Regions from separate parts of the Homo sapiens genome. Here region 2 is linked to region 1. The links come from fine-mapping of genetic effects on gene expression. A gene starts in region 1. The other region holds a variant in brackets. All regions are shown on one strand. Distances are from middle to middle. Region 1 holds the start of CRACD (capping protein inhibiting regulator of actin dynamics). Region 2 overlaps CRACD (capping protein inhibiting regulator of actin dynamics).

Region 1 (2,913 bases):
TATTCAGATTCCTGAGTCACAAACAATGCCAAAGAACTGTGAGCCATTTTTTATATAATTCCACAATTACTATAGGTGATTTTTAAAGGAAACATTGATTTAACTCACAACTTAATGAATCAAAAATTTGCCACAGGATATTTACTAAGAATCTTTTTCTAAAACTGCCTTATCCTTTGTATTCTAACCACTCCCTCTCCACCACCACCACTTACCACCCCCAATACACACACACACACACACACACACACACACACACACACACACTCCCTCACCTACACCAGATCAGTTTCCCAGCCATTATTCCTAAAACCATATTAAAATTTCACAACACATGGTCGTACTTACTAGGTTTTCTTCCCCCTCCCCCTCCACTGAATCAATGTGTCTTGAAATATATATTCTCTTAAAATTCAGAATTCAGAAAATGATTACGATGTCTCTAACTCAAGAACACATATTATAAAATTCAAAGTCGGCTTCTGTTTACTGATAATCATGAAAAAAAAAAAGCCATACCCCACCCACCGTATCCGTAGGGTTAGGAGGTCCAATCTCGCCACTACAGAGCTCTGCAAGAAAGGACGGTTATAGTGCCAGGAAAACCATCGCAACAAGCCCCGGGCGAAGATAAAGAAAACAGATTTTACACCACGGGCAGCGCGCAGTCTCCTGGCCCCGGCCCTTGGTAAACAGGGGAAACCTTTGTCTTGCCTCAGCTATCAAACTGGTGGCTCATCAGAATTGGGGCAACAAGAGTTTGTGCGAAACGGTCTGGCAGAGGTTAAACAAAGCAATGCAGCTCCGGGGGCGGTGGGGAGAGGGCTGAGCCCGGACGGCGTCCGCGATCCCGGACGGTGAGGTCTGGTTCTGGCCCTTGCCGCGGTCGGGACCGAGCCAGGGACCTGGGGACAGGATGGCGAGGCGCGGGAAGAGGAGAAGGCAGGCGAGGTCCCATATTCTCCGCAAGTTCCCGGGGTGCAGCCCGGCGGCAGGTTCCCCTGCGGGGATCCAAAGCGCGCAAGCCGCGCGCAGGTTCCTCCGGGAGGGTCCGCGCCTCCCACATGGGGACACCGCCCCGAAGCCCACCGCCCGCCGCGCCGAGCCCACGCCCCCGGGGCCAGGTCCCCTGGAGTCCCGGGGCGCTGCGGGGGCCCGGCCCGGAGGGGCGCGAGTGGAGGAGAGAAGCCCGCCCCTGTCCCCATTGTCTGGCTCCGGCCGCGGGCCGAGCAGGCGCTCACCTGAGGTCCCCGCCTGGCGCTCCGGCTGGCAGAGCGGCTGGCCGGCGACCGGCGGTCCCGGGCGGGCGGCGGACTCGGCGGCACTGCGCGCGGCAGCCTCCGCATCAGCAGCCGCCGCGGCAGCAGCACCAGCAGCGCACCCGCCTCTCAGTCGGCCGTGGCCTCCATTGCTCTCCCCACTGCCGCCACCGCGCGGCACTGCGCGCCCGGCCCCGCGCGGCGTGGTCACATGCTCCGCCGGCGCCTCGGGCGCTCGGACCCGCGCCGCCGCCCCGCCCGGCTTCGCCCAGGGACAGCTGAGCGTGAGGCGCCGGCTTCCTTCTCGCGCCCTCCGGGAGTGGCGCACACCAGATGGCTCCCCTCCCCAGGGGTGCCCAGAAACCAGGAGCGGGCCCCAAGGAGGGGCGTGGGGTTGACCAGTGCCCTCCCGGCTTCTGCAAAGCCTGACTCGAGGGAGTGCTGAACTCGTGGGGTCTGAGGTTACAGTGGTGGGCTCACAGCGAGGCTCATCCTGCGTGTGGCGAGAACATTGGACCATCAGTCACCACCCCACAGGTTGCAAATTCGGTCCCTGTTACCCGCAGCAGTCTCTCTAATAGGAGATACCGGGAGCCCAGGAGAAGTTTCGCCCTGCAGAGTCCCAACCACAATAAATGGCACTGGGACTCCTGAGAGTTGAGTAAGTTGGAAAATGCCACCTAGAAATAGAAAGGCTAGAAATTGCATTGCTGAGTCCCTGTACATCCGAACGGAGTGACATTGACAATGTGCATTATTGTCCCCAGCCATAATGAAATTAAATATTGATTTTGATGCTTTAAGGAAAATGACTTCTCCTTTTGTGGGCTAACGAAGAAAACAAGACTTTTCCTTCATACTTTTTGTTGTGACTATGCCAGTGCAACTACTGGAAATCAGTTTCTGGTGATCTTTTTAGTTTACTATGTATGCAAGGATGCTAAAAATAATTGAATATCATTATTAAACAGGAAATTTTAAAGCAAAATGACTAGACAAAAGATGCAAAATACGAAAGATAGCCCTAAATTATACCCAGTATTGAGCCAGATGTCCCAAATGCCAAAAATAGGACTAGTAATTTCTTTTCTTTTTTTTTTTTTTTTTTTTTTGAGACGGAGTTTCTTGTTGCCCAGGCTGGAGTGCAGTGGCGCGATCTCAGCTCACTGCAACCTCCAACTCCCGGGTTCAGGCGATTTTCTTGCCACAGTCTCCCTCTGAGTAGCTGGGATTACAGGCGCCCGCCACCACACCCAGCTAATTTTTGTTTTTATTTTTAGTAGAGACGAGGTTTCACCTTATTGGCCAAGGACTAGTAATTTCACTGCATGACTTAAAGGAGCAACCTTGAGACTGGGAGAATCTAGTGCATGTTACCTTATCCAACTGGTTTATTCTAGATAAACATTTAAGTTAAATATCAGTATAATATATGGCTTTGTATTTTCGTGAATATAGATACTTAGTTCAGTGTGCACATATCCTAAACTATGTCTGCTTTATTCCAAATTAGAATAATGCAGAGTTTTAGAAAGGGTTGAGCAAATTTCTTTTGATTTGAGTTTAGTAGCGTTAGAAGTTCCCAGAAGCCGGCCGGGCGCGGTGGCTCATGCCTGTAATCCCAGCACTTTGGGAGGCCGAGGCAGGCGGATCA
Region 2 (2,913 bases), 140 kb before region 1:
GAGCTACCGCACCCAGCCCATTATGGTTTAGAGATAGGTATTCAGATGAGGGTGGAGGAAATGAGATATAAAGAAATGAAGGAAAATAGCACTGACTCCAAGGAGGTGGTCACTTAGTAGGGGATATGACATATTTACCAAAAATTATAAGCCAGGTGGAAAATGTTAACCCCTCTCTCTCTCTCTCTCTCTCTCTGTGTGTGTGTGTGTGTGTGTGTGTGAGAGAGAGAGAGAGAGAGAGAGAGAGAAATAGAGAGATAGAGAGAGAGAGAGAGAGAGAGAGAGGCTAGACAGATACAAATGAGCTGCTGTAGGAGTCTGGAGGGAAAAAATAAAACACTCATTTCCAGGAACGGGAGGTATCAGAGAATAAACTGGGTTGGTGTTGAATTTATCCTTTAAGGACAGCTAAGCTATTGACCAGAAGAGATGGAGAAGAGAAGATGGGCATTTGGAATTGGCAGCATCAGGGTGAGCAATCTCATCTATCATAGGCCCTCCCCAACTCAAGCACTAAGTAGTTCCTAGATGGGCCAAGCATGTCAAGCCTTGGTAAACTATGTCCTTGTCTCCTAATTCTTAAGTTCTATATTATTAGACCAATAATAAGAATTATTAGAAATTGGGGTTCCAGTTCTATGACAGTAAAACATCAAAATTCACCATAAAGAAATGAAAATAAAATGATATCGATTTTTGAAAATACATATACATATCCAAGTCCTTAATATAAAATTTAAGTTCTGTTTTAAATGCTCCTTTTGGGGGATGTTTTTCTGCATGGAATGAACTTTCTGAGGCTTCTTAAAATATGTGCCCAGTGAAGTTTAGACTAAGGATGCTTTTTCCTTTTCCTGGTAAATCTTCCAGTCATAGGATAGCCTTCTTCATCGTTCCTTGGACCTCTGAACTGCAGTTCAGAATTAGTCATTTATTTCAAGAAGCTTAACACTTAATCTGTGTGCATGTATGTAAACAATAGATTATGCTTTAACAGTAAACAGTAGTGGAGGACATTTTCCATGCTGACTTTAGCTTTCTGTTTGGTGTCAATTTTTGGTCTCCGTG[G/A]GAGCAGAAACTGTCTTGCTGTTTGTTCTTTGTCAGCCTAGAGTCCGGAGCAGTGCCTTATCCGTGGGAGGCATTCAGTGTGCGTCTGTTGAAATGATGAAAGGATCATGGGAACGAAATCTTGGCTTCACTTGGGCCAATTTAGAAGAAAAAAAAATTTATTTATTTTAATAAGGAAAAAGAAGATTAAAATGGACATTGTAGGGGTAATAAATTCAATAGCTTTTTTGTTGTTGTTTGTTTGTTTGGTTGGTTTGGGGTATTTTTTGGCTTTATCCCCTAGAAGTACTAAGATGATCGTTTGCTGGAAGAGAAGCCTGTACAGTCTATAGGCTTGATCCAAAGCTGCTGGTAAATCAAGCATTCATTTTTCTAAAGTTACATAAATGAAAGAAACGACAGGATTTAGAGGATCCAAGGGCCTCTCTTAAGAAACACGTTGACATAAATGTGACCTGCGGAGATTGTGTGCCCCCCTCGAGTGTCTGGCAAGCACCTTCTCATCTTTCAAGACAGCTCGAATGACACCTCTGGGAGGCCCGCAGGCTCCCTGTGGCAGTTGTTTATGCTGCCCTTTGTGTTCCCCAGCACTCTGTGCAAAACTCTCTCAAATATCACTAATCACACTTCACCCGGTTATCTGTTTACATATCTGAATTCAATTTGATAAAATTCAATTCCCATTGCAATGCCCTAAGTATTTGCTAGGGCAATGCTAGATTCAAAGGTTCAATGGCAAATTCAAAGCCTCTGGTTGTTTTTTTTTTTTCTTGGATAGGGTCTTGCTCTGTTGCCCAGGCTGGAGTGCAGTGGCATGATCATGGCTCACTGCAGGCTCAACCCTCTAAGCTCAAGCCATCCTCCCACTTCAGTCTCCCTGTGAGTAGCTGGGACCACAGGGGTGCGCCATCATGCCTGGCTAATTTTCTAAAAATTTGTGGTTAGAGATGAGGTCTCACTATGTTGCTCAGGCTAGTGTTGAACTCCTGGGCTCATGCAGTCTTCCCGCCATGGCCTACCAAAGTGCTGGGATTACAAGCATGGGCCACCGTGCCTGGCCCCCTGGCTTTTAGAAGCTACATCCTATCATGGAGGACAGACAAGATACAACTACTTACAGTTCTCTGTTAAGAGCAGGAGAACCTGAGGCAGCAGAGAGGTGACAGGAAGGAGGAAGTGACCATGAACTCCTGAACAGTATGCTTACTTCATATCCTCACCCCTCAGCACAATGTCTGGCATGTAAAAAGTTCCATGCATGTTAATGGAGGGAGGGAAGAGGAAAGGAATCAACAAAATGCCCCTACCCCATCCCCATCTCTCTGCTATTTCTTGTCAAACTAGTTACTCTAAAGTTGGTGTTTTCAAGCTCCTGGAAGAGATATCTTAGAGCATAGAGTTGATGATTCAGTCCTCCCTAGCATATAGTACAGTATACAACAATCACATTTGATGGAGACAAGTCATCGTTTGTCCTGTGTTTAACTGTGGTCCCATGGCACCTGTTCATAAACACTACACTCCCAGGAAGTCTACAGGAAAGAGACTTGCAGACAGGTTGCATTTGCTGAACCACTAGCACTACACCAACCTAATTCTTAAGTTCTGTATTATTAGACCAAGAGCTCTTCTACCATCACAAAAGGATTTAGCTAGAATTTTGCTTCCCTCAGAACCTCATTTGCCATCCAGTTTCCCATTTCTCTGCCAGCTTCATCTGTGCAACTCATCTTGGGTTACGTCTGGCAGATGGAGAGAGGAATCTCATTTCAAGTCGCTGCTGTCTGCATCCCAGAGCCCTCCCGGAGCAGCCTCTATTTCACCAAGGACAGAAGAAAGGAGGGA

Evidence for each region. PIP is the estimated chance that this variant, and not a neighbour inherited with it, causes the effect.
Region 2: its variant is fine-mapped to the expression of CRACD in nasal epithelium (TOPMed, PIP above 0.99).

The regions. Positions count from the first base shown.
Region 1 is chr4:56,047,628-56,050,540 of GRCh38, reverse strand. CRACD (capping protein inhibiting regulator of actin dynamics) reads right to left here and starts at 1,443. Exons shown (of 11, transcript NM_001393381.1): 1 at 1,242-1,443. RefSeq lists an enhancer at 872-1,547 and a silencer at 1,078-1,717.
Region 2 is chr4:56,185,995-56,188,907 of GRCh38, reverse strand. The region is part of intron 2 of CRACD (capping protein inhibiting regulator of actin dynamics); the gene reads right to left. Among named protein-coding and RNA genes, the nearest start is that of CRACD, 140 kb to the right of the region's middle. The variant G/A (reference allele first, on the strand shown) is at 1,069.